4 separate regions of the Homo sapiens genome follow, and regions 2, 3 and 4 are each reported to be linked to region 1. The links are microRNA targets in miRTarBase. Many come from high-throughput screens and were not tested one by one. Region 1 holds a microRNA gene; each other region holds the end of a gene's coding sequence.

Region 1 (8,728 bases):
CTCTCCTAGCACTCAATAGTTGATGAGAATCAAACTCTGGAGGTTCTTTTCCTCCCTCCTTTTGGTAGCTCAGATGGACGTGATTTAGCTCAATGGAAGAAGAGACTGACACACCAGCCACTGAGCTAGAGGCACGGTTTTCTAACAAGGCCTATTCCCTATTCATAGACCTCCCATTACTACACAGTCTTAGAGATGTTCTCCTGTCCCATACTATATATAGACTATTATAGAGCAGGATTCCTGTCCATTGGAAGGTAGGCCATCGTGCATCCAATCCAGCTATGCCCCACCTAAGCATACCTCTCTGTGGAATAAAAGTTCCAAGAGTTAGTTAGGATCAGCTTTTTCTCAGCTAGGATTTTCCCCTAATAAAGCCTACTGTATATTTATACCGTATGGCACTAAAGGTGTGAATATCCATGCCTCCTTTACACAACTATATTTAATAATAACTCCTCTGCACCAGAAGCTTGAATTGACTTCAAATGATTGTTTACAATGTTAACTCTTCCTAACCAGCTCTTGATCTTCATCCTTTATAAATCCTAGGATGAAACTTACTTTTTCACACGTTTCCTGATACTTAACTTTAGCTCTCAACCCTCTCTTTTCTGACAAACCAGATTGTGCTTGCTACTTTTCTAAACTGAGTAAGAAAAAAATAACAAGACAATTCAGGATTTAATCAGATGACCTGCTTTTAATGGAATGATATTTGAAGCAAGGAGTGGGATGGGGAGAATAACAAACCAGTCCAGAAGCTCTATAAACTCAGTGTACACAGGGCCTTAGACCACAGCTGAGTAAGAATTACCTGTCTAAGGAAGAAGATAAATAATGAAGAAAAGGAGGAGTGAAGAGTCCAAAGTGAAATTCTGCCTCCTCCACATTTCCTTACACTGGTTCCACCCTCTTTTCTAAAGGACTGTCATTCCCCTTCCCAGTATTCTAGCCTCACTGCAATATGGTATGTCTCAAGTAGAAAGTGAGCTGGTGGGAGAGACCAGTCAGCTTTTAGAGACACAGTATATACAATAACCAGTGGGAAAAGTACTCGCCAGCTCCCTTGACTGCTCTCTACATATTTATGGGGTACATAATAATGTTTCAATACATATAATGTATAGTAATCAGATAGGGGTAATTGGCATATCCATCATCTTGATCATTTATCATTTTGGTTTTTTTTTTTTTTTTTGAGATAGAGTCTCACTGTCGCCCAGGCTGCAGTACAGTGGCATGACCACAGCTCACTGCAACCTCCACCACCTGGGTTCAAGAGATTCTCCCACCTGAGCCTCCCGAGTAGCTAGGACTACAGGTGCATGCCACCAAGCCCAGCTAATTTTTGTATTTTTAGTGGAGATGGGGTTTCTCCATGTTGGCCAGGCTGGTCTTGAACTCCTGACCTCAGGTGATCTGCCCGCCTTGGCCTCCCAAAGTGCTGGGATTTGAGGCGTGAGCCACCGTACCTGGCCTCATTTCTTTTGTTGGGAGCATTCTGTATCTTCCTTCTAGCTACTTGAAATGATATAATTTATTGTTGAACTACAGTCATTCTACAGTGCTGTAGAACATTAGAACTTATGCCTTCTAAGTAATTTTTGTATCCTTTAACAAATCTCTCTCTACCCACCCCTTCCCAGCCCCAACCTCCCTTGAGAGGTCACATCTTCCCTTTCTTGATTAATCTGCCCTGGAAACCCAGCTCCACAGGGTGTCATATAGCAACCTGGCTGACATTAGATTTCCAGCATGAGGGGAACGGCCGAGCTGCTGAAGGGCACAGGGGATGAGCTGCTTACGTGGAATTCTTCCATTCTCACCCTCCAAAACAGTGGTGAAACACAGAAACATACAATGACAGCATCACAATAGATCATCTGGAGGCTATGGTAGTAGTAAATATTAATTCAATATTTTCATACAGTAATACATGGTTTTGTGTCCTTGACAATGCCTAGTGATTGTGGATGCTTACTCTAATGCTAACTAAAAAAATAACAAGGGGTTGTTTCAATTACATAGGCAAATAGTAAACGTGTATTTCAAAACTAGTTCCATTATTAGCCCACTAAAATGAATTTAGCAGTTTTCGAAGCATCACAATGAGAAAGTAAAAGACACATTTTTAAGGTAATTTACCTTGGAAACTTAAGTTTATGAGATGAATCTTTCATCAGGTAGGTTAAGCATACCTTTACTGTCTTGATTATTATTTAAGAACTCCAGTTAATTTAATTTCCCCAAATATGCATAAGAGATTTCTGCTTCTCTATTCCAGTGTTGGGAGAGATTTCTTCAAATAAATGAAAATACATTTTCTTACAGCTTTACATTCTTCCTTATACATTTAAATATTGTTTATACTCTTAAATCAATGAGAATTTGTAATAAATATTTCATTTGCTCAAAGTAAAAAATGGAAACACTGATTTACTAAATGATCATTGCTGACTTTTTTTAATCCAAATACTTTTAATTCTCCAAAATTGGAAGGTACCGATGGGAAGCATGTTCACTTTCCAAATGAGAATCGCATGGCATACACACTGTCTTATCTAATTCATCAGGACACCCACCCACTGGCACTGAAAAGCTGTAATCCCAGCAAGCAAGAGCCATACCCGTGTGCATGCACTCATGTGAAAATATCACACACACTAAATTGCATTGAGGCCGTGACAACATGCAACTTAGTAATGTGCAATATCTCCACCAGAGCAAGCAGAATGGGAGCATCAGGGAAGAAGGGTGTGATGTATACATTCAGGAGACAACATGCTGCTGAAGAGAGGAAAATGGTCTGGGGATAAAGGATGCATGCCACTGACTCAAAACTTCATGAAATGAAAACCCAATTGCAAATGTATTCAACTGAGAAGAATACTTATTCAGAATCAAAATAATGAGTAAGGTTCAAAACTTCAATGAGATAGTGATCATAAAGAAACCACATACTTCAGAAGGCAAAGCTTCACGAACAGACACTATCACTGTCTGGTCATGCAATTAACCCCCAATTTCAATTCCATTTTTGACTTATTCACAGATCATATAAATGAATGTAATGATTTCCACTTAGCTGCAACATAGATGATGATTAATGACTGATGCTTATAAAAGTTGGTATCACTGATATTTGTAGGCTAAACTGCACTTTGAGGACATTACAATATTTTCATAGTCATTCATAAATTATAAATAACCACTTATTTTTCCCTCAAAATCTTTTTCCATGAAGAAACATATTGCCTCTTCAACACAAACCTTCAGGATGAAAAATCCAACAGGAGCTCTTAGAAAGAGAACTCACTACCATCTTCTCCACAGGAGAAAGCTCTTCAGAGGAATCTCTGTAAAATCTGTACATTTTAAGTCTTGAATTTGAGCCAGTAAAGAAACAGCCCTAGGAACTTAAACTGCAAAAAAAACACCTTGAATTATAGCCTTAAAATTACATAACTTGATATAGCTTTGGTTAGAAAAATGTCTCAGGCCATAACCCATTCTTTAGTCTGTACCATATTTATCAGACTCATAAAAATCTATCAATTCTGAGAACCATTAGATTATAGTTCTGGTACCAAAGGTTGTTAAAATTTTTTCTGTATTTAAAATAAGGTGATAATAAAACAAATGGTTTTTAAATGCCAGTATACTATGGAACCAAGACATAAGCTACTGTTATAATACATAATTAGTGTATGCACTCCCAAGAAGGGAAGTCGAATCTAATTTGTAAAAGACTGATTTCCTCATATCGCTGTAGATGACAGCACTCTTTGTAATCTCAAATTCTCTCCTGAGCCAAAGACCTGAATTTCTAAATGCCACCCTCTTATGTCCACAAATATAAGTCATGATCTTCCCTAACCAGCTCCTCTTGAAAGAAGGCATCATGGTGTAACAGAGTATGTGCTTTCAATCAGCTGAACCTAGGTGTGACTAACAGCTTTACTTACCACTGACTGGCAAACACAACAGCTAGGAATTAAGTTTAAAACAAAAAAGGTGGCATATTTGGTATGAAAAAAGGTGACAGACATTTAGAGGATGGTCTGCTGTAAGAAAGCAGAACAAGAGAAAATTCAAAAGCTGTGATGTGAAAATAGAAACATTTTTCTAAGAATAAGAGTCAGTAACAATGAAGATTACTTGAGGAAAATGGAAGCATCATCTTTCTTGAAGTTCTTTATGAACAAGGTAGATATTTTTCTGCAAAGCTTGGCTTAAGCCACACTGACTGGAGAATTCCTACCAGCCTTTGATATGGCTGCTACAATAAATAGCTTTACCCCACTGGGAAGATAAAAGATTAGCCTTCCTTTTTGGTAGAGCATTTGCAAAAGCTTTTCTGAGTCAGAAAGATATCACCTAGATAAACAAAAGATTATCTATTGCTAGAATTTTCATCATTTCATTTATTCAGCAAAGATGATAGTCAATGGTCATATAGGACTTAGGAGGGAAGCTATAGCTGGTACTTCCTTCGAAACAGCTTCACCCCAATTGCTGTTACACTGGATAATATACTCCCAAATCTGGAATCTTTATAGATGGCCCCTGTGTGGATACCTGAGGACACTATACAGGTGTTAAGAGCATTTTTTTTAATCCCACTTGACAGCCAATCGCGGAAACAAGGTATTGGTGAAGATCTTACCCAGGCCTTGCTAGTAGGAAAAGGGGAGAGAACTTAGCAAAAGTTCTACAGACATTGTATTTTAGGAGCATGCATCCTGTTTGAATGTAACTGAAGGTTTTCTAACAATCAAATGGGATTCTCCCTAGCTATTACATGAACACAGTGAAAAAATATACCAAGATCAATCAGGTGCAATTATCAGAGAAAAAAAAAAAAATCAAGATTTCTGTGGAAGACTAGTTCCAGACAATATTTATTAAAAGTATGTGGAGACAGAAATGCCAGCCAAAGATTTGCTATTCAAGAGATGCTTAAGACCACCTGGTTAACAACGTATTAGAAAAAGGAGCTCTAATGGACAATAGGAGGGTTTAATTTGAGACGTATTCATAAGAAGTAAAAATGTAGTTGAGTCTTGTTAATGAGGAATGATGACAGGGATTACAGGAGGGGCTGAGACAGGCCTGCTCTGCAAAAGGGTCCTCCCTACCAGAAATGATGAAGAGGAAAAGATAAAGGAAGCCAAGAGCCAACGACCTGGAAAGAGCTTATACAGAGGAAAAGTTGAAGAAGTTCATTCAGAAACAAAGCCTGTAAATACATGGATGCCAGAAGTCATAACGAAAAAGTTTCTGGCCAGAACCTCCAGTGCATACAGAGCCTATAACTTAAGAGATAAACAACGATTCTGCATTTCCAGTATCCAACCTACTCCTTGCAGAGGGCACAGCTTGGCTGTAGGACAGAGGAGAAACAGGAAGTCCACCTACTCTCCTTCTGGAGCAAAGCTAAAACTCCTGACAGCAGAGGGTTCTGAAAGAAGTTGGAGATGGGGGTGGTGGAAGCGGGGGTTCTCTTAAGCAAGTGACATGATGCTAACAGCTAGTCTAAGATCCTGCTGATGGAAAGCTGATGGAGATAGACCATTACATCTTTGTAAATCTCAGGTTTGAGAGAAGGTTATCAAAACTGCTTTGAATTGTTAAATTTTGTTTTGTTTTTGAGATAGGGTCTTACTCTGTTGCCTAGGCTGCAGTGCAGTGGTGTGACCAAGTTCACTGCAGCCTCCATCTTCCAGGCTCAAGCAATCCTACCACCTCAACCTCTTAAGTAGCTGGGACTACAGCTTTCACACCACCATGCCTGGCTAATCTTTTTTATTTTTAGTAGAGACAAGGTCTCGCTATGCTGCCCAGGTTGTGTCAAATTCCTGAGCTCGAACAATCCTCCTGCCTCAGCCTCCCAAAGTGCTGGGATTACAGGTGTGAGCCACCGCGCCCAGTCTGTTTTTTTGTTTTTTAAGAAACAGGGTCTTGGCCGGGCATGGTGGCTTATGCCTGTAATCCCAGTATTTTGGGAGGCCGAGGCAGGCAGATCACTTAAGGTTAGGAGTTTGAGACCAGCCTGGCCAACATGGTAAAACCTCATCTCTACTAAAAATACAAAAATTAACTGGGTGTGGTGGTGCACGCCTGTAATCCCAGCTACTTGGGAGGCTAAAGCAGGAGAATCACTTGAACTCTGGAGGCAGAGACTGCACTAAGCCAAGATCACACCACTGCAATCCATCTCCAAAAAACAAAGAAACAGGATCTTGCTCTGTCACCAAGGCTGGAGCGCAGTGGCGTGATCACAGCTCACTGTAACCTCAAGTTCCTCAAGCAAGCCTCTGGCCTCAGCCTCCCAAGTAGCTGGGGTTACAGGTGCATGCCACCAAGCCCAGATAATTTTTAAAATTTTTTTATAGAGACAGGGTCTCACTATGTTGTCCAGGCTGATCTCAGACTCCTGGCCTCAAGCAATCTTCCTGCCTCAAGCAATCTCAATTGCTGGAATTACAGACATGAGCCACTGTACCTGGCCTGAATCTTTTTCTTATTAACAACTGCACTGTTCATATTTATCCTGTCAAAATGAGATGAAAACCTTGAAAATACCAGAGTCCATCACGAGTTTAGCACTGAATGTTATCAGGATGCTCATGACAAAAAACAGGCTTATCATGGAAAAAAAGTTCTGGGAGAAATAAGAATAGCATAAACCTTATCCCTACCTGATAGCTTCTTCCACAGACTGGCCAATAATATTAGAAGAAGGACCTGGCTGAGATAGTGGAGTCAGGCTTATCACCCACTTCACTGGCTTGTAGTACTCATCACTGGAACTTAATAGATAAAATAGTGTGGTCAGGAAAATTATCTGCAAAACAAAGGACAACATCTCCTAAAAAAATCGTATTTGGAAACTATAGGAAGACAGACATCTGCAATTGCAAATGAAACCAGAAATATGCTTTAACAGGGAAGGAAATATGACGTGTACTTATCTATGTGGACGTACCAGAGAGAGTACAAAATTGAGAAGGGCTGTCCCGCTGTAGAAGAGGATGGTCAAGAGTGTAGTGACAGTGGTGAACAGCAGGCTCACATTCCGGCTCATAACGATCCACAGAGACTCCAAGATCTGACGAGGAAGGAAAGCTGGATATCAGAACCAATCCTCATGAAAAAAGTTTCTAGAGCCATCTAGTGTGCTTTTAATACAGTGTTTTAGTACCATGAACTGAAAAGCTAAGAACTGAGGATTATTTCAAATGAAAATTAAAAAAAAAAAGAAAAATCAACCAAAAACAGTTGTATACTCAATAGTAAAGAAAATAGTAAATCCACACCAAATAATATAGACAGCAATTAAAAACATCACTGTTATAACATGGGAAAATATTTTACAATGAAATGCTAAATTTAAAAAACAGGATTAAAACATTTTATATATAATTGGTGGGGCATGGTGGCTCATGCCTGTAATCCCAGCACTTTGGGAGGCTGAGGCGGGTGGATCACTTGAGGTCAGGAGTTCCAGACCAGCCTGACCAACATAGTAAAACCCTGTCTCTACTAAAAATACAAAATTAGCCAAGTGTGGTGTGGTACATGCTTGTAATCCCAGCTACCTGGGAGGCTGAGGGAGGAGAATCGCTTGAACCCAGGAGGCAGGGGTTGCAGTGAGCCGAGATCCTACCATTGCACTGTAGCCTGGGCAGCAAGAGCAAAACTCTGTCTCAAAACACACACACACACACACACACACACACACACACACACACACACATCATTGTAGATTATGTAAAAATCGCAAGCAGAGAAAAAATATAGTCATGCATCACTTAATTATGGAGATATATTCTGAGAAATGTGTCATTAGGCAATTTCGTCCTGCAAATGTCATAGAGTGTACTGATACAAACCTAAATGGTAAAGCCTAGCACACATATAGGCTGTAAGATACAACCTACTACTCCTAAACTATAAACCTTTGTAGCGTGTTACTGTACTGAATACCACAGGCAACCACAATATAGGTATCTGTATATCTAAACATCTAAAAGGTACAGTAAAAATACAGTATTATAATCTTATGGGACCATGATTGCATTTTGTGGCCCATCATTAACAGAGACATTATTATGTGACACAGGCCATGACTTTACCTCCTGGGGAATATGCTAGAGTACAACCTGTGGTTATATTTATCTTGTAGGATCCTAAGTGCAGGCCATGAAATTCCAGTATTTGCTTTACTGGCTGCCTAGCCCCCACCCTTGCCATTTCCAACTTAGAGCTATCTACAAATATAAAAAGCATCACCTCAATGACTTCATTAAATCACAAGAAAAGCAATCAACAGACAGGGACAAGAGCAGTGCTCTGAGGCCAAAAATCTTTCCTGAGACAGGCAATGACCAGTATATTGACGTCTACTGAGTTCAGCTGATTTGTCACCTACACATTCACTAGAACCAGATATCATGAGGAAGGTTTCTCATAGATGTTAAATATTAATAAAGGAGAGGTACAATATTTATAGCATACCTGCACATTTCATTTACTATCTCAAATCCCCTTATTATATTATCTGTTCTATTCTTCCTAAGTGGACTATCCTTCCTCTTAATGAAAAATACAAAAACAAAATGACCAGAAAAACACCTCCCATTACCATTTCTAAAATGCTTCCATAGACCTCCCAACAATGCTGTGAACGAAGAAATGCAGATGATATTATCTCTATTTTATA
Region 2 (8,728 bases), not on the chromosome of region 1:
TTTTAAAACATGAATAGTGATACATTTTTTATATAAATAATTGATATTTAAGTATTTTTAAAAGGAGGAATTGTTTCCAGTCAAACTCCTGTTTTTTTTCTGACTTCAATCCTGTTACTTTAGTAACAAAGAGTATAACTAGAGGAATGAGAAAATGCCAGCATCTGATTTTAATGTTGCAAAAGAATCTCCAGGGTTGTATTGCTAAAAAGAGAACTACTGGAGTATGAAATGCTATTAGACATTCTGATTCCATGCTGGCTTGATATATGCAAATGCATGGGACTGGAATGTAGTGTATTAACAAACTTAACAATCAGATTGTTACTGGAATTGCCATTAGTGAAGGGCCCATTTCCAGCAGTGGATTTGGCCCCTGCTCCAGGATTCTGACTTGTTAGAAAGGAATTCAGTATGGAATGGTATGATGTGCAGCCATAATGTTATAAAACTTGCCTAATCCATCCGTTGATTCTTTCTGTGCCTTAACATTATTAATTCCTTAAAAGCAAAGGCTTTGTTCTCCTGTTAGGCAGATTTTAATTTGATAAGCACTAATGAGTTTGTTAGTGATCTTTTATACTTAACATAGTCCTGAATCATTTATTTGTATGTCTTATCCTAATTTATATAGACACTGGTCATTTACATATCTTTAGAATTGCTAATGCAATATTGCTACTTTAGAAAAGTCAATAATGCAATAATTAGAAAATAAGATCTACCACAACCTGCAGTGAATTTTTATTTCTCTGGCTTGAATTTACAATATGTTTTCCATCAAAGCTTCTCAATTTGTTAAAGTGATGTTGGAACATTTCAGCTATACGGCCCTAATCCATTGTGGTGAGAACTTTTTCAAGAGTCTCTGAATCCTCCCTGGTTTTGTTTTCTTTTTAGGAGAAGCTATTCCAATCTATGCAGAAATAGAAAATTGTTCCTCTCGTCTGATTGTTCCAAAGGCTGCTATTTTCCAAACGCAGACATATTTGGCTAGTGGAAAAACAAAGACCATTCGACACATGGTCGCCAATGTGCGAGGAAACCACATCGCTTCTGGGAGCACAGACACATGGAATGGGAAAACGCTAAAAATCCCACCTGTTACTCCATCCATCCTGGATTGCTGCATTATCAGAGTGGACTATTCCTTAGCTGTAAGCAAAGCTCTTTTTTAAAAAAAAATGTGTATGATGGACAATAACTGATGTCATGTTACTGTGGGTATGTAGAGTTGCCTATAAAAATGTCATTTTATTTCAGCATTAACACCAATTGGGGACTGTATGAAGATTGGCCCTTGTTTTTAATAAAACCTATTCCCCACAGGGGATTTAATAGAATGCCATAAAAGAATTGAGGTGCATTAAGGGGTGTTTGTTATATTGAAGACATAGCCTTAATTTTCTATAATTATTATATAAGCCATGCAAACCTACAATGATGCATGTTAAGGACACAGTTCTCTGTCACAGAGCATTCACTATGTTTTGTGTACTCTTCATTTTGTTTAATCAAGACAATTGAGAATTGTGATGGGGGTGGTGGCAGCCGACAAAAGCATTTGTTTCTATGAAAAAAAGAAATTAATTGGGCTACCTACTGGAGGTGTAGCTTACATTTGTTCCTTTCTCTTTTTTTTTTTTTTTTGGCTTATTAGGTATACATTCACATTCCTGGTGCTAAAAAATTGATGCTCGAACTGCCATTAGTGATCGGTACAATTCCATATAATGGTTTTGGCAGCAGAAACTCCAGCATTGCCAGCCAGTTCAGTATGGATATGAGCTGGTTGACACTGACCCTGCCAGAGCAGCCTGAAGGTAAAATATGTTGGCGTTCTTTCATAACGAAGCTTTACCTAGAAAATACCTAGGAACAGAATATATACACTATTAAGTGCTCAGATGTTGATGAGTACTGCTACTATAGGTATCTTTATTCCTACTACTAAAAAATCAGAAAGCATTAGTCCTGGGAGGGACTTTGAAAGTTTAGCTTTATCTAGGACGCAAAGCTGCTGATAGCAGATTCAGGAATAAGATGTACATTTCCTAATTCCTATTTGTAATAGGAAAACAATGAAAAACAGTCAAATGTATGGTGTGTTATGTCTTTTCTATAGTCATATTTCAGTGATATTTGTTTACCTATATCTCAAGAGACTAGAATAGAAGCTATTAGTAGTAGTTTAATAAAAGGAGAATCTATTTTTTATTGTAATATGCATAAAACCTTGCTGATTAGAGGGAAAGAATGCCATATTTTTTATCTTCAAGTTTAGCTGTTTCTTGTTTTTGTAGCAGTTAAGAATCGAGATTAATTTTTGAGTGGATTTCTTAACTCCAACTTCATTTCTATTTCAGCACCACCAAATTATGCAGATGTGGTATCAGAGGAAGAATTCTCTAGACACATTCCTCCTTACCCTCAACCCCCTAACTGTGAGGGAGAAGTGTGCTGTCCTGTGTTTGCCTGTATACAAGAATTCCGGTTTCAACCCCCACCTCTTTATTCAGAGGTAAGCAAAGCAAAAGAAAATTAGACTTTTACTGTATTATTTTCAAATAATCATTTTTTGTCATCCGTTCATTAGAGTGTCTGTTGCTGACTCATAATTAGTAAGGGATACATTTAAATTTGTTTATACAGTGGTAATAGATTATCGCTGATTCATTTGCCAGATTTTTTTACTATTGTCCTTGTGATCTATGGCATCAGATACAGTATTGTGGATTGCCTTTAAGGTGTGTTATTTGGCCATGGAATATAGAGAACTTAAGCACCTTCTGGGACTTACACAGGCTCTGACCAGCTTGGCATATAACCATCATATAATTACAAATAGGTACTAGAATCGTTTTAAATAATGCTACAACACTAATCTCAGTCCGCTCTTTTTTTGCAGGTTGACCCACATCCTAGCGACGTAGAAGAGAGCCAGCCTGTTTCCTTCATTCTCTGAACGTATTTCAGAAATCACTGTGTTCATCATCAAATTAGAATGTTGGTTCTTTTCCTTCTGCCTTTTTGGGAAAGAGACAGGAAAGATTCACTTGAAAACATAAATGAACGTCAAGACTGAAGGCAATAGAAATTAAAGAATGTGAGAAAGTTCTGGTGGGCCGGCAGGATTGCCGCACAAGTTTATATGATGGTCGTATATATATCCCTGTTAAAAACTGGGATGAAGATGTGCAAAGTCACAGAATGTAATGGAAGTCCTGATGGTTACAGAGTAAGTGAAAGGGTGCCTGCGCTGACGTGAGAGAAAGGAATCTGTAAACAGTGGAAACACTGTGGGAGTTTCCCATGGTGAAGAGTGGAACGAAGGCGATATGAACTGAAGGGGTGAAGACTTGATTTTGGAGAGGGCAACAAAACAAGGGTGTGTGTGCATAGGAGAATGGCCCACTCCAAATACGAAGTGAGATCCTGAGTCTTTGGGTGCTTCATGATTTCCTACCATATTCAGGCCTAAAGACATTGAAAAAGCATCTTTTCTTGAGATCATGGTCATATGAGGTCCTAATGAAGTACTACAGTTTTCATTCTTTCAAGGGTAGACTAAAATATAGTTTATAAATCGGCAGTACGGTATTATGAAACCAAGAAAGGGTTTCTTGAAAAGCTTGTCGGTTCAAAGAGGAAAGATGAATTTCAATGTGAAAACACGTTTTGTTGAGGGCTGTACTTTTTACCCCCTTTAAGTGCTTTAACAGGATATACGTTTGATTTTCCTCATATCTTATTTACCTAGGAGCATGTAAGAGAAAGAAGGGAGAGAAAAGGTTGCATCTGCAGGATGCCTTGATAACTACACAGTCCCAAATAAAAGGCCTTTTTCTAACCTACCTCTAATGGGGTTATCAGATATGTTTTTAAATCTCTCGCCCTGAGTACTCTTCTTGGGAGTTGCTGCTGTTTACAGCCACAGTCTCATCTATCACTAAATATGAAACTGGGCCAAGGGGAAAATTCAGTAAGTTAGCGTTAAATGGAAGTAAATATATGTATACCTAAGAGAATGTCAAAATAAACACCAAACCAAAAGAAGGTAGGAGTGCCATTTTTAGAAAAGACACAACTTTAATTCCTGTCAAGAGACCTAGGTCTACTGATGGCAGTCACTGCATTGTACATTATTCCAGTTCTTCAGTAATTCTGTTTAAACTGTGATTTTCTTTATTGTGTTGGTGCAATATTTTATTATCATTTAACCTCAGGATATTCAGACCAACAGGATTGTGTTGCTGCTGAAAGTCTGAGCAGTGTTTTACCGTCCCCAGCCCCCCTCCCACATGGTCACATGTTCACTTGCTTTTCCTTCCATCTGTTGGTTTTGTGAGCTGAGAGCATCTCTGGACACATGGAAGGGAGCCAGGGATTCCTGTGATACAGATTTTGAACCAGCAGAGTACTTTGGTTTTCTTCATGTCCTAAGGGTTTGATCCAGAAACCCTGGTGCTTCCCCTGCAGAATACTGTACTTCATTTAACAGAATGATTGATTTTTCTTTCAATCAGCATGTTCACCAAAAATAGAAAAGTTCTTCTAAGGTTAAATTTTGTATTTAAAAGTTAGTTGGCCATTTGATCAGGGAATTTTCTACACACATTAGGCAAATGTATGCTTTTCATCCTCTGGGCTTACCTCTCTCCTCTGCAATCCTGGAAGCATCGTGCATAGTTCTTTCATTGTAAGCCGCTATTTAAATTCCCACAATGCAAAACTGTTAGACCAGTAATTGTGCTACTGAAATTGTCACAAAACGTTATTCCTTGATTTGGTTTTTAAATTTTGCTTTCGTGTGTGTGTCTTTAAACAGGTAATGTGTATTTAAGTGTTGTCTAAACAGTTGATTTTTACTTTAGAAAAGATCATCTTCAACTGTTTATTGACTTCTGAGTTATATAGTTCATGCCCTGCCAAGGCATTGTTCGACTCCATGATACTAAAACATAATGAAAGAAACAAACTCCAGTATGGAGAAGAGAAAGTTTAATTATTTGGTTCCATCTAGAAAAGCAACAACTTAAAGGAATCCTTCACTAGGATTGTCTTATCACCTTTATTAGATAAATCATGAAGTGTCCCTGTGAAATTGAAGTGAAACTATCTCTGTAGGACTTAAGAGAATAGCTAAAAGGTGTGACTTGCCTTATTGAAATGATACTGGCATATCTGACTGTAAGCAGTAGGTTGAAGATATCATTTTATGAATGTGGAGAATTCTACATTGAAACAGAAAATACCTGGGAATGAAGATTAAAAATGTAGCTGCTGTTATTTGCTTGGTTATTCCCCTCTTGCTCTTCTTTAGTTTGAAAAAACAAAAACGTGGCCTTGGAATTTTCATTTTGATGCAGAAATTTTGAAATTGAAAATGTGCATGTTTTGGTGCACAAAATCCTTCTGTGGGCAAAACTTTGTTTTTGTTTTGCACAGTAAGAAACAATAGGCAAGCGTTATGTTTTTGGTAAGTTAACTATGAAAGCTTTCTTATTTTTATTATTAAAAATGTAACAATTTAACCCACAGGAAAAAAAATTACTTTGTATGCTTGTTTGAACCCTATGGGTTCGTTTTATTAATAAAATTATTACACTAATGCTATGAGGTGCTAGTTTTTTTTTTCAAATATAAATTATTATAGACTTAAGGGAACTCAATGCCAAAAAAACAAATGTTGCTGCAGTTGAAATCCTTTTCTCTAGGTGTGTTATCATGAGGGAGGAACAGCCCTAGAACCTGACTTTGTTTTTACAGTGGGCTCCGGTTCCCAAGGTAGTCCAGTGTTAGCATTCCATGAAGAAAAGTAGCTGAGACAAGTGAGGAAACTAAAGCTATATTGGTTAAAAAAGCATATCATCATTTATTCCCAAATGATAAGGATTACTCTTTAAAGCCTCCTGAGTTTGAGTGTGTGATTGTCCAGAATCTCCCCAGGATCGATTTAGCAGGTCTCATGGGTAGTCAAGGGACTCTTCCTGGGACACACTGACCTAAGTATGCCACCCCTTTCTACGCAAACACTCCAGTAGATATGAGCACTATACTTTATACAAGGAGGATGTGATGGTATGTCATTTCAAGGAAACCGCCCAGACCCTCTGCCTGGAAAACTACCACCTGAACTAAGGAGTAAGAATTAGTCCAGTTGGTTTGCTCTTCAGTTATTTCTAGTAGATGGTGTTACATAATAAATAGGTTCTTTCTGTATCCACATTTATAATCAACGTAAGTTGAAATATCTGTCTTATGCGATACTGAGGAAAAATTTTTGATTACCATTACAATTTCTGTAGTTTATGTGTAGTATGAAATTTAGAACTAGGCAAGACACTGCAAAGAAACTAGGACAAAGCCCTCACATTACAAATCAGGATGCCAAAACAGAGAGTTGTAACCTGAGAGCGTGGTCCCTGCTTGCTCTGAAATTTCCTGATTCTATAATCTTCATACAAGTAATGGGAACAACTAATTGTTTTCAGTTACACAGCCTAAGAGTTGCAGACCTGGTTACCTGGATACTAAGCATAGGCTAAATCAAGAGTCTTCAGTGTTTACACTTAAGAGCGCTGCCTCCCGAAAGGACACCAGTCTTTGACTAAATTGCTTCCAAGTGTGTTTAGTTGCCAGAATCTTTTCTTCAACAGAGATTTATGTTTCTACATTTATATAATGAAATAATTACAGACTCTCAAGAAGTTACAATAATAGTACAAGGAAGTCTTGTGTACTCATCACCTGGTCTTCTGCAATAACTACAGTACATTAGCAAAACCAGGACATTGAGAATACAATTTAGCTAGAGCTTAGACCTTACTTGGATTTTGCCAGCCTTTGCATGCAGTCATTTTTCTTGTGTATGTTTTTGTGTATAGCTCCATGACATTTTACCTCCTGTAGAAAGGCGTATCGTCACCACCACCAAGACACAGAACTGCTCCATCACCGCAAAGAAACTCCCTTAGGTTGTCCCTTTATAGTCACCCCATCCTCCTCTCCATTTCCTTCCCTCACCCCAGCCTTCCCACCCGTTTTTCATCTCAGTAATTTTGTCATTTTGAGAATGCTAGAAAAATGGAATCATTCAGTATGTACCTTTTGAGACTGGCAGTTTTTTACTCAGCAGAACATCTCTTAAGATCCATGCAAATTGCGCCATGCATCAATAGTTTGTTTATTTGTATTTTAATGGAGACATTTTAAAAGAAACAGAATCGACTACTTCTGAAATTTTCATTATGCACCTTGCAAAGAAAATGTGTGACATCGATAAGCACATGATACCTTTGTAAATATTTTGATTTTGAGTTTGAGAACTTTTTATGTACAAAATATGTAAATGCAGATTGATACAAATTTTTAGGGCTAATGTTTAGCTTGTCAAATACTTGAAGTATTTTGCCTTTAAATAGAAAGAGATTGCATTATAAATGAGCCAGATAGACCTGTGATGAAATTAGACAACAAGGAGAAACTATATTGGGCTATTTATCATATCGGCTTCTGAGTCTGATGAATTTTAACATAAATTATCCAGGAAAGAGACTACAGTTGCCTGGTGTGTTTGAGTATTAAATTTTGTGATTTTTTTCTCTTCTTTTCTGTTTCTTCTTTAATTCCTTCGTTCATACTCCCACTTCTTAATATCTGATGAAATGGAAAGACCACTCGGAAGCTGAGAAAATTTTTAACTACAATATATGTGTTTATTCCTAATGAAACAATACTATAAAACATGGGCTTATTTTCTAAGACTATTAAATTTTTCTAGAAAGGAGAGCTCTTATTTTATAGAAGCCATTACACACTAATATTTCCCAAAAACCAGACATGAGTTTGTTGGTGATGAGCAGCAGCAGCAAAAGAAAGACACCGAGATGGGGTGGAGATGGATAGAAAGGGTTGACCAGTGTCAACTTCTAGAATGTCACTATAACTGAATTCGCCATGAACTGTCTCTTTGGTGGAGCTTTCTGTGTTCATTGATGGAGATTTCACCATCCCTGACAAATTTTCAGAGAACCAAGACGTCTTCCTGAACAGGAAGAGACACGCTTTAGGCAGCTTCTCCCACTGGAAACAAGGGAAGCATAGGTGCCTCCCTCGTGTTTGCAAACACCTGCCACATACGTGCACACACACGCATGTGCACACACACTGTTATTTCTTCCTCTCCTCCACACCCTTTACCTCCAGAGCTGTGTCTCTTTCAGGTAAGAATGTAAGCTCCGTTACAAAACGAACAAACAGATAATAGGTTCCTACTTCCACAGGAATTTATTGGAAGAGAAGTCTTTTGCCCCAAGCTTCTTACTAGTTTGCCCCCAAACAGTACGAGTCTAGTAGAAAGGTATCAGGGAATTGTAATTAAATGAGAAAATGGGGGGGAAATAGATGCCCTAAGTTTATGTTTTTTCTTTTTTAAAAAAAGTCACTGCATGGTATAATAGTCATTTCTCCATGCTGCCCCAGCCTCATAGGTCCTTATTTTAATGACTAAAGGACATAAAATGTTCCAGACCAAAATAATAATGATTACATTACTTACAGCTCACACATCTAGTATTGACTGTGTTCTTTACAAATATGCAGTCACTTTCCCATAACATGACGGTTTCCGTGGTATTTTTTTATTTTGCTTTTTAAATTTTAGATGACAGAATCCATCTGATTGTCCACACGGCAAGTGTTCTATATGTGATCGCTTATTCATATT
Region 3 (8,728 bases), not on the chromosome of region 1:
TGTGGAAGTTACAATTAGACTTTTTTTCCCTGTAACTACACATTTTGAAAACAAAAATGCCAATTTTAATTTCAGAAGAATGATAACAAATTTTCTTCACGAATTCAGATAGTCAACTTGAACCAAGCAATAAAATTATTTTAATTCCTAGCTAGGGCTGGGAGAGGGGGAGTAGTGCTACACAGTGTATTAGGGCAGGATGTCATGGTTGTGGTGGTGATTCTGGTGTTTGCTAATTTTTACTGATAAGCAAATAACCTCTGTGTCTTAATTACTGTACCAGTCACATGAAGGCAACCTTTTCAGGCTAAAGTCACCATGGTGTACCTTCTTTATAAACTCTCAGGGGACTGATTTTTTTTTTCCTTTTTCTTCACCTTATACCAAGAGAGAAGGGGACTGAATTCTTTCAGCATTTCTGGATTGCCTTGTAATGAAGTAAATGAATCTGTTTTGGATCTTGGACTAAAAATATTAAAAATAATGTGTTACACTACAAAAGACACAGGCTTTTTGTCACATGGAGGCTTTTTGTCACATGGGTCTGGATCCTAATGCTAGGTGTGCCGCTTACTGATGACTTGTCCAAGTTACTTGTAAGCCTCATTTTCTTCAGGTACAAAATGAAAATAATGATATCTGCTTTACAGAATTATTACAAAGATTAGAATAAAATTAGCTGTATCTCTAATTTTAGCACATACTAGGCTTTCAATAAATTCTGCTGTTAGGTCTGTAATATCTTTAAATTTATTTAAGTGTAATATCTTTAAATTTTAAATACTTGGTGTTCCATCTTAAAATTTGGTCATTATAGTCTAGGTTTTCATTTTAATTTAATAATGGAAATACTCATCATGGAATCAGTTTGAAACCAGACAGATAAGGTAAAATATGTTAACCCATGGTAGCTAATGTCACTTGTTGCCTTAATCTTTAATACATAATACATATTAAGCTTCATAATTCTTTAAGTTGGATTATGCAGTAATTTGTGCTAATTCAGATGGTAGAATTGGTAAGAGGCTTTTAGAGCCTCTTGCTTATTGGGGTTGCAGAGGTATTTGTTGTTTGCATTTTTTTCTAATATACATAGCTATTCTGCATCTCTATTCTTGATCTTGGGTGGGAAGTATCATGAAGAAATTATGTCACCATTCTTAAATTTTAAAACTCATGAAGTTAATACAGTATTTTGAAAGTTTGATTAAAGTGAGCTGCTATCTAGTTTTCAAATGTTCCTACAGCAGAACCATTGTCTAGTTTTCGGTGGCAGTTGATTTATATTTGAGTCAGGGTTTTGGGTTTGTGAAATGCAAGTCTAGTGATGTGTGAGTTTTAAGTTCATTATTTTCCCCAGATTTTAATGAGGTTAGAATAATTTTATGTGTTTTCCTTTTTTTTTTTTTTTTAGACGGAGTCTTGCTTTGTCATCTGGGCTGGAGTGCAGTGGTGCAATCTTGGCTCACTGCAACCTCCACCTGCCAGGTTCAAGCGATTCTCCTGCCTCAGCCTCCTGAGTAGCTGCTACTACAGGCGTGCACCACTACGCCCAGCTAATTTTTGTATTTTTAGTACAGACGGGGTTTCACCATGTTGATTGGTAAAGATGGTCTTGATCTCCTGACCTCGTGATCTGCCCACCTAAGCCTCCCAAAGTGCTGGGATTACAGACGTGAGCCACTGTGCGCGGCCCTGCTTATTTTTTAATATAAATGTAATAAAGACAATTTGGAAAATTATTTCTAAACTTTTTTCATGGACAAAATCTTTAGGTTTTTATACTTCGTTGAAGGGGGCTTTATTTTAAATATCCTGTAATTTCCAGTGATTCAGAGATACAGTAATTGCCCCCTCTTTTTTTAAGTTAAAAACAATACACAACATTTCAGTGTCAAGTGGTCCATTAGTAGTCTCTTGACTTACACACAGAAAGCCTGTCTGTATTTTTTGTACTCATTGGTTAGAAACTACAGCACATTATTTTTCTTCAAGCTGTATTTTATGTAGAGGAAAAACAGTTGGTATATCTGTGTTGATGTTGATTCATATATATTGGGTATTTTATTTATTTTTATAGTAAAATGTATTTTGACAAATGTAAAATGAAAAGGGGAAGATATCTAAATTCTTGAATTTGTTTTTATAGGAGTTCCATCTGGAATATGACAAATTAGAAGAACGGCCTCACCTGCCATCCACCTTCAACTACAACCCTGCTCAGCAAGCCTTCTAAAAAAAAAAAAAAAAAAAAAAAAAGACTTCCCTTTTCTTGGGGTATGGCTGTCTCAGCACAATACTCAACATAACTGCAGAACTGATGTGGCTCAGGCACCCTGGTTTTAATTCCTTGAGGATCTGGCAATTGGCTTACGCAAAAGGTCACCATTTGAGGTCCTGCCTTACTAATTATGTGCTGCCCAACAACTAAATTTGTAATTTGTTTTTCTCTAGTTTGAGCAGGGTCTGAATTTTTTCATTTATTTCCTTTTTTGCCAGCAGACAGACTTGAGTCTGTAAAGACAAGCAAATACACTGACAGAAGTTTACCATAGTTTCTAAAATGTAAAAAAGAAAACCCCCAAAAGACTCAAGAAAATTAGACCACAAATTTTGCATTGTTCATTGTAGCACTATTGGTAATAAAATAACAAATGTTTGTGCATTTTTATGTGAAGATCCTTCTCGTATTTCATTTGGAAAGATGAGCAAGAGGTCTGCTTCCTTCATTTTACTTCCCCTTCTGTTTTTGAAAGGCAGTTTCGCCAAGCTTAATGCAAGAATATCTGACTGTTTAGAAGAAAGATATTGCCACAATCTCTGGATGGTTTTCCAGGGTTGTGTTATTACTGAGCTTCATCTTTCCAGAATGAGCAAAACACTGTCCAGTCTTTGTTACGATTTTGTAATAAATGTGTACATTTTTTTTAAATTTTTGGACATCACATGAATAAAGGTATGTATGTACGAATGTGTATATATTATATATATGACATCTATTTTGGAAAATGTTTGCCCTGCTGTACCTCATTTTTAGGAGGTGTGCATGGATGCAATATATGAAAATGGGACATTCTGGAACTGCTGGTCAGGGGACTTTGTCGCCCTGTGCACTAAAAGGGCCAGATTTTCAGCAGCCAAGGACATCCATACCCAAGTGAATGTGATGGGACTTAAAAGAAGTGAACTGAGACAATTCACTCTGGCTGTTTGAACAGCAGCGTTTCATAGGAAGAGAAAAAAAGATCAATCTTGTATTTTCTGACCACATAAAGGCTTCTTCTCTTTGTAATAAAGTAGAAAAGCTCTCCTCACTGCAGTGTTGGCTTTGATTTGAAATTGCGAAATTATTTCTTCAACATGAAAAATAGAGGAAACAAACTGAAGTTTTACAGATATCAAACTGAATGGTGTGACTCAAATGTCTTTTTCAGCTTCCAACAAGTAATTTAATGGAAATATAGTGAACCGTTTCACTTGTAGGTTAAAAATGTAGACAGTATTAATCAGAGAAAACTTTTTTAAATGGGTTGTGGCAGCATTAGAAATAAAACATTCTGAATACTCTTGGAACCCAACCAAAGTACTTCTGTGAAAAATTTATGAGAAATTTCTTGATAGACCTTTAAATTTATCTTTAAGAAGTAATGTGCAAATGAAGGTAAGCCATAAGGTGGGAATGGGTAGACTTTACCTTCAGTTTGCTGGCCTAGATATCTCATATTTACAAGTTAGTGGATTCTTTTCCCATCTAAATACAAATACTGTATTTTAAAAATCAGAAGATTGAAGCTTCCAAAGCAGAACTAGAGAGTAGAAAAAAGGCAATGAGTTTTGATCCTTTAAATTTTCATTTTTAACCTATTTTTCTATGAAGAGTAAAAGTCTGTTGGCATTAACCAAATCTTTTGAAAATGAAACATTTATGACATTGCTGTGTTTGTGTACCAGGAATATAAAGTGGCTTAAAATTTACCTTTTTCTATGCATTTTGAGATATGAGAAACACTATAAAAAACAGGATTTTCTATCTTTCATAATTAAACCAAAGCATCTCCTCAGTAAGAAAGATAGCACTATATAAATCATTTTATCTATTGTGCACAAACCTTCACAGAACACTATACCTTATTTGACATAAACCAGAGTCAAAGCATAGAAATCAATCTAGAAAAAAAAAGATTACATTTTTCCTAGTAATTCACTTTGTAAAATAAAATGTAATTTTTCCTACATAACCACAAAAAACAAGTAGGAAGAAAAATGTGGAAGGGGATCTTTATTCTCATGAATATAAACAACAATATAGATTGAAGTCTCAGCTGAAGCGTGATCATGACTGGTACTGATGAATGACTCCGAAAAATAAGATAGCTCATACCAAGTGGTTTGTTGTCTTGGCTGTAATCTTTTTTTCTCTTTTTTTGTTAACTGCCATATACAGAGTTTTAAATGCACACTTTTCCATTTTTTTGAGTTCTTTTTATCCTGAATCATCAAAATGAAGAAACTCTTGCATGTTAGCCAACTTTTTATAACTTGTTAATATCAGAAATTACCATGCTATGGACTTCAAAATACAAATTACTCTATTTGAAATATTTAAAACACTACTTTGAACTTTTTAAATGTAACAGTTATAATACGCCTTGATTTTATAACGTGGTTATACATGTAAAGAGGCTGAATCCAACTAATTATATTTCACATTTTCTTTCAAAGCTTTAATTCTGTTAATTTCCCCCTATATAGCTAGTGAAATAGATGTGTACACTATGTTAAATAAATTTTTTAGATTAAACTATGATTGGCTTTCTGGGAATAAAAGCTATTTAATTGCAAAGGGAAATCCTTTATTTGGTTTCAAATATAATTATTTAGGTGGTATTATAATTTATATGCTAAAGCTCTATTTTCAGAGACTTAACTACACAAATAGTTTTCCTTAGATATAATACATTTTAAGAACTGAAAGTTTATGTTAATTCTTAAAGTATATATAACTAGTCTGTTTCTTTTTGACACTGAAATTGGGACAAAGCAGGTGCTTGATAGTTGTTGACTGATAAAAGTTGATATTTCAATTTGAAAATAAAGTATAAAGCATTGGGCTTTGAGATAGCTTACTCAATTATCATTTGCTATAATTTCATTTTCACAATAATCTTTTTAAGCATTTTCAATAACTTTTAAATATTTCAAATTTTTCCAGTCTATAGCTTCTCTAATTGATAAATCCTCTTCTATTCACAAGCCATAGATCTTCCACTTTGTTATATCCATTGCTCATAAAATATGTGGCATCTGAGCATGGCTGTACAGTAGGACTCATTTCATTTAACTTAGATTTAATAGCTCAATTTTGCAAAAAGTTGCTGAAAACCTATACGTGTGTGGAAACAGGATTGTATAATACATTAACCATGGTTTGTCTATGTAGTTAATAAGATCTAGAAATATCTACTAACTAGGTTCCATTGAGATAGTCTCTGGAGAATGAACTAAGCCAGACATTGAGATGCCTTTACTTTCTAAAAGTTGGATCCTAATGGCAGGTCACAAGGCTGTCTCCTTGCCACTGGCATTACCAGTGACTTTGATTATACCATGAATACATGACAGATCTGGAAGATGAAGCAAATAAACTCACTGAAGGTTAAAATTGGGATCTAAATCTAACCAAGTAGTTTGGTGTGTAGAGTTGAATCAAATAGGATACATTCAATCAAGAAAATTACTTAGTTTTGCACTTTGATTGTTAATAAAGAATGGTGGAATATAACATGATTTGAGTGGTTCATATATAGATCAGTAAGAATTGTGATCCTGTTGCCAAAAATACTAATGTAATCTTCAGCTACATTAAGAAAAATATAGCACTCAGAAAAAGATAGGAAGCCCACTCTACTGGAAGTAATCACTCATCTGAAATGTCATCTTCTGTTTGAATGCTGTATTAGAAGAGCTGCCATGCCTGGGGAAGGCAGAAGGGGATGGAGAAGTAGCATGCCTTCTAGCTGCCTGGCAAATGCTGTGTGTTTTTATATACATTGTTGTCTGAAGAATAGCATCATGAGGTGAAATTTAGTGTTCCCATTTTAGAGTAAATTTTAAAAACAAATAGGAATACAATTTTGGAAACATGGTATTTGTCTTCAGGTATCAAATTCAAGAGCTGTCAATGAAAGGCAATTAAGCTCATTCTTGTGACTGGAAGAGCAGAACTAGGACAAATAAGGGATTTCAGTGCAATATTAAAAAGTAACTGAGTTAATTCAGATTTTTAAATCAGTTGCTTTGTAAGGCGTTAGATTTAACTTCATAGGACATAACCTAGGAGAGACTGGCTGGATAGTGTTCTGTGCATAAGGTAAGGAGTTGAATGTCTTAATGTTCCTGTGGCTCATTGAAAAAGTGTTAAAGTAAGTGAGATAATTACTGTATTTCAGCAAATCTAATTGCCATCAATTGTAAGGGACACCATTTTATGTACCACTAAGACAAGCTGCCAATTACAGAATGTATCTATTATGTGAAGAAAGAACGTGCATCTTAGAATTGATGAGATGTAGGTCTTGGAGACAACTAAAGAATACTAAGGGGAGGCATGACAGTTGTCATCAAACACAGGAAGAACTGGAATAGGGCAAGTCTCAAACCAATAAGGAGAAGTTGAATGAAACAGACTTTTTCTATATTAAGGTGCTACACAGTACTAGCTGCTTCATGAAGTAAAGGTTCAGTCAATGTGCAAACAAACTGAATGACTCTCAATTAGTTGACAGGACTGCCTTTTTAAATAAAAAGTTGAATGTGATTACTTCCAGACCTCTTTTCAGCTCTTTAAGGTACTGATACCCTTTTCTTGATTTGAAGTTGGAGACTATGATGTCATCAGGGCTAAAAGGTATATACTTAAAGCATTGACCTTTAAGTACATAAGAATATGCTGTTCTGTGAATCATGGATAAGGTATACTTAAAATCACTGCTATATCTTTGGAAAGAAATTTAAATCAAAAAAGAATTACAAAAGGCAACTTTATTGAACTTACATGTAGAGTTGTTTTGATGTTAGGAGTAGGAATGTGAAACATTAATAAAGCACAACAAATAGTAATCATATGTATGTGTGTATTCACCAGATTTATTTATGTGTATATTTCTACATTTGAAAGAGGAAAAAGACAATTTTTAAGTTTTGACGTAAATGTTTAGTCTGAAATTGTACGTTGCATTAGTGTGCAATCTCCTGGGTACAAGTACTAAGTAGAATAAAATCTTGTTTCTTAAAATCCCACTAAATATTATAATCCCTGTGTATCAGGGGCATTCATTTACTTTTTCCTATAACATCCAATGTTCTAGGGCAGAAACCATGTTACTACAATAGTATTTGTTAGCAGAACAGGAGGAAAGCTGAATCCATATATAAATATAAAACAGCAAAAGTGCTTTTATCTCAGTTATTTCCTGGGAATATTTCTGCTGATCTTAAGATTTCCTCTTCAGTTTGTATGTATAAAAACTGATAATGTAATGGGAATTACATTATCAGTTATGTATGCATTAATTGAAGGTTTTTTAATCCAATTAAACAGTTGTGTAAATACTGTGACAAGATTTTAGTGACATGTCTCTTTATCATAAGAACTCAAGATTTATAGGGCTTTTTAAAAAGCTAGTCATTTCCATGTTTATTGTACAGTTTTCTCTCAGTTATTTAAATGACTTCTTGAAAGTGTCAAAATTCACAAGGTCCTAATTGTCATAATTCTCTATCTTGAAAATCCAAATTATTGCATAGTCAAATAGCATATGATAACCAGTTGACATGTGCTAAAATACTTAAACTATCTTCTACATAGCAAAGCCAATTTTTCATTCTTTTTGAAATTTATCTTAGTTTTCATTTCTAGGCCTGAAAGGCCATACCATACCACCAAAATGTTTTGACATCTTTCTTAGAGAAGATTAAATAAAACTGGCTTTATGCCAAAAGTGTTAGTTCTTTTAGACAATAATTGAAGGCACTAGCTGAGGAAAACAAATCTTTACTATGAATCAGAGCTGGTCTCTAATTTGTATGTGTTTCCTGAAATGTAATGTTTTTGTGATTTGCATTTATTTTTGGCCTAAGTGACATTTTGACCATATAATTTACTTTTAAAACTTACAATACATGCTTTTTTCTTCCAGGCCAAACTATTTCCTAGTGCATAATGAAGATAATTTTGATGATAATACATGAATTCTTCAAACATTTTGGAAGAATACTTCAAATTTCAAGGGTGGTATGATGTCCACAAATCGCTGAGTCTGCTTGATTCTTTTTAGAATCAGGCCTCTTGATACTAATTTATAATGAGAAAACTATTTTAAATTAAACATTTATTCTTCAAAATTATACATCTGAATGAGAAAACATTACATGAGGGAATGATATAAATAGTTTCATCTTCTTATGTATAAAAATAAAGATTTGGGGCAGCCAGAATGTTTCAAAGCTACCTTTAAATCTGTTACATACTGAACATTTATTTTAAGATGGAGTTTTAATTACCATATGTAACAGTGCATGAAAAATGGGCTGTCTTTGAGTTAAATATTTCCCCTCTTAAGAGAAAGATATGTTTGTTTTTTTATTTTGAATGTTTTAACTTATTGTCTTCAAGTGGTTAATATTCTTCAAATATAACATGCTGTCTATTGCATGAGTTATATCTCAG
Region 4 (4,000 bases), not on the chromosome of region 1:
CTGCTGGACCCCAGAGCTTTCCTCACCAGGCAGCCAAGGAACGAGCAGGGAAAGGCATGGCTGGGAAGTGGGAGAGGGTCACCAAACACATCCTCGAGGCCCACTGTCCCCAATCTCACCAGCTGAGTTTAGCATTAAAACACTAGCAGTGAGGGCTGTGTGCGGTGGCTCACACCCGTAATTCCAGTACTTTGGGAGGCCAAGTTGGGGGAGGGATCGCTTGAATTCGGGAGTTCGAGACCAGTCTGGCCAACATGGCGAAACCCGGCCTCTACTAAAAATACAAAAATTAGCTGGGCGTGGCGGCGGGCACCTGTAGTCCCAGCTACTTGAGAGGCTGGGGCAGGAGAATCGCTTGAAGCTGGGAAGTGGAGGTTGCAGTGGGCCGAGATCACGCCACTGCAGTCCAGCCTGGGTGACAGAGCAAGACTCCATCATAAAACAAAACAACACAACACTAGCAATGAGGGCTGGGCGTGGTGGCTTACACCTGTAATCCTAGCACTTTGGGAGACTGAGGTGGGGGATCGCTTGAAGCCAGGAGTTTGAGACCAGCCTGGGCAACAGGGTGAGGGCCCGTCTCTACAAAAACAAAAAAACCCAACTGGTAGTGAGGGTCCCTGTGGAAGATTCTAGATAGCAGAGCAAGATCAGGCCTGTCATACATCGCAGTCACAATTTCTGGGTTTCAAGCATTATTTTTGGTCCCAGGATTGTACGGCTGATGAAAGTGACAGCTCAAGGAGCAACTGGTGGGTTTCCTGAAGGGAAATCCCCTGAGAGGAGAGCGGGCCTGAGCCTCCAGGGGTGACTCTCAGGTGAGTCAGAGTCCACTCCACCTCTGCAGTTCTGTGGAATTACCACTGGCGTGCACAGCAGCTCCCAGCCTAGCAGCCTCTGCTGCAGGACAGCAGGCCTCTGCTGTGGCGTTCCCGGTGTGCCTGTCTCACTGACTTCAGGGGTGGCTGTTTTTCCCTTGCGACCTCAGCTCCTCTCATGTGTCCAAGGAAAGGCATTTTCCATTTGTCCAGTTTCTTCTTGAAGTGACAACTGCCAAAGATTATTTGCTTGGCCAAACTTTAGTCAGGCTCCTGAACCTTCCCCTAGGCCCACCTGTGTGCCCTTGTAAAATCCAGTTTCAGCAATCCCTTGCTAAGTCAATTTTACAAAAACGGCCATCCTTGATATTTTTTTTCTTTTTTTGAGACAGGATCTCACTGTCTTCTAGGCTGGAGTACAGTGGTACGATCTCGGCTCACTGCAGCCTCAACCTCCCAGGCTCAAGTGATCCTCCCAACTCAGCCTCCCAAGTAGCTGGGACCACAGGTGCACACCACCACGCCTGGTTTGTATTTCTTGTAGAGATGGGGTCTATGTTAACCAGGCTAGTCTCAAAGCCCTGGGCTCAAGCCATCCTCCCAACTTGGTCTCCTAAAGTGCTGGGATCGTAGGCGTAAGCCACCACACCTGGCCTCATCCTCCACCCCCACCCCCAGGTGATGTCTGGTCACCCTGGCCTGTCTTCAGCAAGAATCCTGTTAGGTGTGTTTGGCCGGAAGACCCCTGACCCCTGAGGTTTCCTCTGAGTCATTTTCCACCCACTGCCCCCCTCTGCTCCTTGGCTCTAATCCCCACCTGCCCGTGCTGCTGCACTCAGAGTTGAGCCCAATCTCTCTCCCCATCCACAAGACCCCACTGCAGTGGCCCCTGTACCTACCTTGATGATCCTGGATAAAACTTTACCATGAAAGAAAATGAAAAGCAAAACATTTGTTTTTCCAGCCCCTTCTGTGTGCCAGGCACCTTGCCAACATGACCCCGGGAGGCTGCAGCACCCGTGTGCCCATGGGGAACAGCTCGCTGGGCCCTTCTGTGTGCCAGGCACCTTGCCAACATGACCCCGGGAGGCTGCAACACCCGTGTGCCCATGGGGAACGGCTCGCTGGGTGCATCCCCTCATGGCTCACGGCTGGAGTGTGCCTGCGTTCTCCACGTGGCACTAGGAACTCAGGGGGCAGGGGCTTCTCTGCTGTCTGTATGCCATGGCACTTGCACTCCATAAAGATACTGCATCGGCCGGGTGCGGTGGCTCACGCCTGTAATCCCAGCACATTGGGAGGCGGGAGGGTCACCTGAGATCGGGAGCTCGAGACCAGCCTGACCAACAAGGAGAAACCCCGTCTCTACTAAAAATACGTTAGCTGGGCATGGTGGCACATGCCTGTAATGCCAGCTACTGAGGAGGCTGAGGCAGGAGAATCGCTTGAACCTGGGAGGCGGAGGTTACAGTGAGCCAAGATCATGCCATTGCACTCCAGCCTGGGCAACAAGAGTGAAACTCCGTCTCAAAAAAAAAGATGTTGCATCAGACCCAGGGACCTCAAACACATGGGCTGGCCAGGTTGTGGAGCCCGCTGATTGGCCACGGACAGATGGGGGGATGGTCTCGGCAGGGACTTTGAGATCTGCTTCAGATCTTCCCTGGGGCAGTTTGGAGGGTAGAAGGCAGACTCTGTGGCTCTGTGCAGCCTTGGCTGAGTTACTGCAACTGAACCTCGGCTGCCTCACATTTGTACTAGGCACAGTGGGAAGGCGGCGGGAGGTGCGTGCTGCGGCGCCAGAACAGTGTTTGCTGGTGCTTCTGCCCTCCAACGGCAGAGGGCGGAAAGGGACAGGGACTCTGCACCTCATCACATACCTGGTGTTTTCAGGGCGGCGGGGCTGGGGACGGGACACTTCCTTGCTGCCGTGAGCGGGGCCCACACGCGTCCCAGCTTGGAGCCAGCGCACGGCCACGGCCACACGCGCTCGGAAAGCGAGGCCGGCGAGAAGGAACACAGAAGGCCAGCGCTAACTGCGCCCCAGTTTCTTTTTATTGATTTCTTTTCTTTTCTTTTTTTAAGTATGGAGGCTCAAGTATAAGATGTAGATTTTTTTCTTAAGCTTTACAAAAAAACAAAATAAAACAAAAACCTCCTTTTGCATTCCATAGAAATTGACAGAAAAGCACCTGGCCGGAAGAGCGGAACGGTCGGCGGCACCCCCCCCAGCCCCCACCCCGCGGCCTCCGTGGGACGGGAGAGTCTGCGCAGGACGGCACCGAGGGCCACCTCTGCTCCCAGAGCTGTCCCCTGTCCCCACGACCCCCAACCCCAAGCAACTCCCAAACACACACGGAATAAGATTTCCAGTTTTTCTTCTCTCTTTCACACACCACAGTTAGTTCATAAAATTTTTTTGTTTTACATTTTTTACACCAATGTACCAAAAAGGTGGGAGGGAAGGGAGGCTGGCAGACAGTGGATTTTATGCCTATAAATGGGGGGACAGGGAGGAAGACGGGGGGCCCGGGTGAACAAAAACCACACGGTCTCTATGGAAATGTGGAGAGAACTGAGAGCGAGGTGTGGCAGAAGCAGGCTCGGAGCCGGAGGAGGGTGGCTATCGGCTTTATTCTCAGGGAGAGATGGCGCTGTGCGGTCAATGATGCAGCTGTTATGTGACCTGTCGGGGAGGGAAGGGACGAGGGAAGGGAGCAGAAAACGAGTTTTCTAAGAAAGGAATCTAACGAGTGCACGGCGTGTCTGGTTAGCATGAAACAGAGGTTTAGCATTGCTGCTTTCTCTTCAAAGCCTCCACCAGGTCATTCTTCAGAGCTTCTTGTTTTGATTTGTCTGCAAAAGTCTGCACAGACCTGCAAGGGAGGAAAGGCGTTATCAGCAGATTGAACAGGGACTGGTGAGGCGGTGGAGGCCTGGGGGCCACCATGCCAGTGCCTGGCTGATTTGCTGCATGGACCCGCTTCCTGGGGTGAGGCTCTGGGTCACTGGGCTGGGCATCTGCCCCTCTCAGAAAGGGGCAAAGGGGTACATGGCCGAGACCTGCACCCTCTGCACCTTGCCAGGCCCTGTGGGGGTGGCATATGGCTTACATGGACAGGTGCTCATCTCTGCCCCTGGCCACCGGTGACCCGGCCATAGTCCCTAGAACCCTAAGTTCA

The links. The annotated mature microRNA hsa-miR-32-5p reads UAUUGCACAUUACUAAGUUGCA and lies in region 1 at 2,694-2,715, opposite strand. An mRNA with a match to its seed (bases 2 to 7 or 8) in the 3' UTR can be bound and repressed. Matches are read on the target gene's strand: a 7mer-m8 pairs with bases 2 to 8, a 7mer-A1 pairs with bases 2 to 7 and ends in A, and an 8mer does both.
Region 2: miRTarBase lists ARRDC4 as a target of hsa-miR-32-5p. Seed matches in the 3' UTR shown: 8mer at 4,197-4,204.
Region 3: the mRNA of CNOT2 is a reported target of hsa-miR-32-5p. Seed matches in the 3' UTR shown: 7mer-A1 at 3,052-3,058.
Region 4: miRTarBase lists CAPZB as a target of hsa-miR-32-5p. The part of its 3' UTR that is shown has no 7-base or 8-base seed match.

Annotation. Positions count from the first base shown.
Region 1 is chr9:109,043,579-109,052,306 of GRCh38, forward strand. It overlaps MIR32 (microRNA 32), which reads right to left and starts at 2,720; the gene lies at 2,651-2,720. It overlaps TMEM245 (transmembrane protein 245), which reads right to left. Exons shown (of 18, transcript NM_032012.4): 13 at 6,992-7,114; 14 at 6,705-6,850.
Region 2 is chr15:97,968,223-97,976,950 of GRCh38, forward strand. It overlaps ARRDC4 (arrestin domain containing 4), which reads left to right. Exons shown (of 8, transcript NM_183376.3): 5 at 901-1,157; 6 at 1,661-1,823; 7 at 2,367-2,521; 8 at 2,909-5,611. The coding sequence ends at 2,965. Among named protein-coding and RNA genes, the nearest start is that of ARRDC4, 12 kb to the left of the region's middle. RefSeq lists an enhancer at 2,190-3,389.
Region 3 is chr12:70,351,680-70,360,407 of GRCh38, forward strand. It overlaps CNOT2 (CCR4-NOT transcription complex subunit 2), which reads left to right. Exons shown (of 16, transcript NM_014515.7): 16 at 2,150-3,314. The coding sequence ends at 2,236. Among named protein-coding and RNA genes, the nearest start is that of KCNMB4, 10 kb to the right of the region's middle. RefSeq lists a silencer at 356-556.
Region 4 is chr1:19,335,924-19,339,923 of GRCh38, forward strand. It overlaps CAPZB (capping actin protein of muscle Z-line subunit beta), which reads right to left. Exons shown (of 9, transcript NM_004930.5): 9 at 2,852-3,694. The coding sequence ends at 3,607. Among named protein-coding and RNA genes, the nearest start is that of SLC66A1, 26 kb to the left of the region's middle. RefSeq lists enhancers at 1,431-2,395, 3,562-4,000.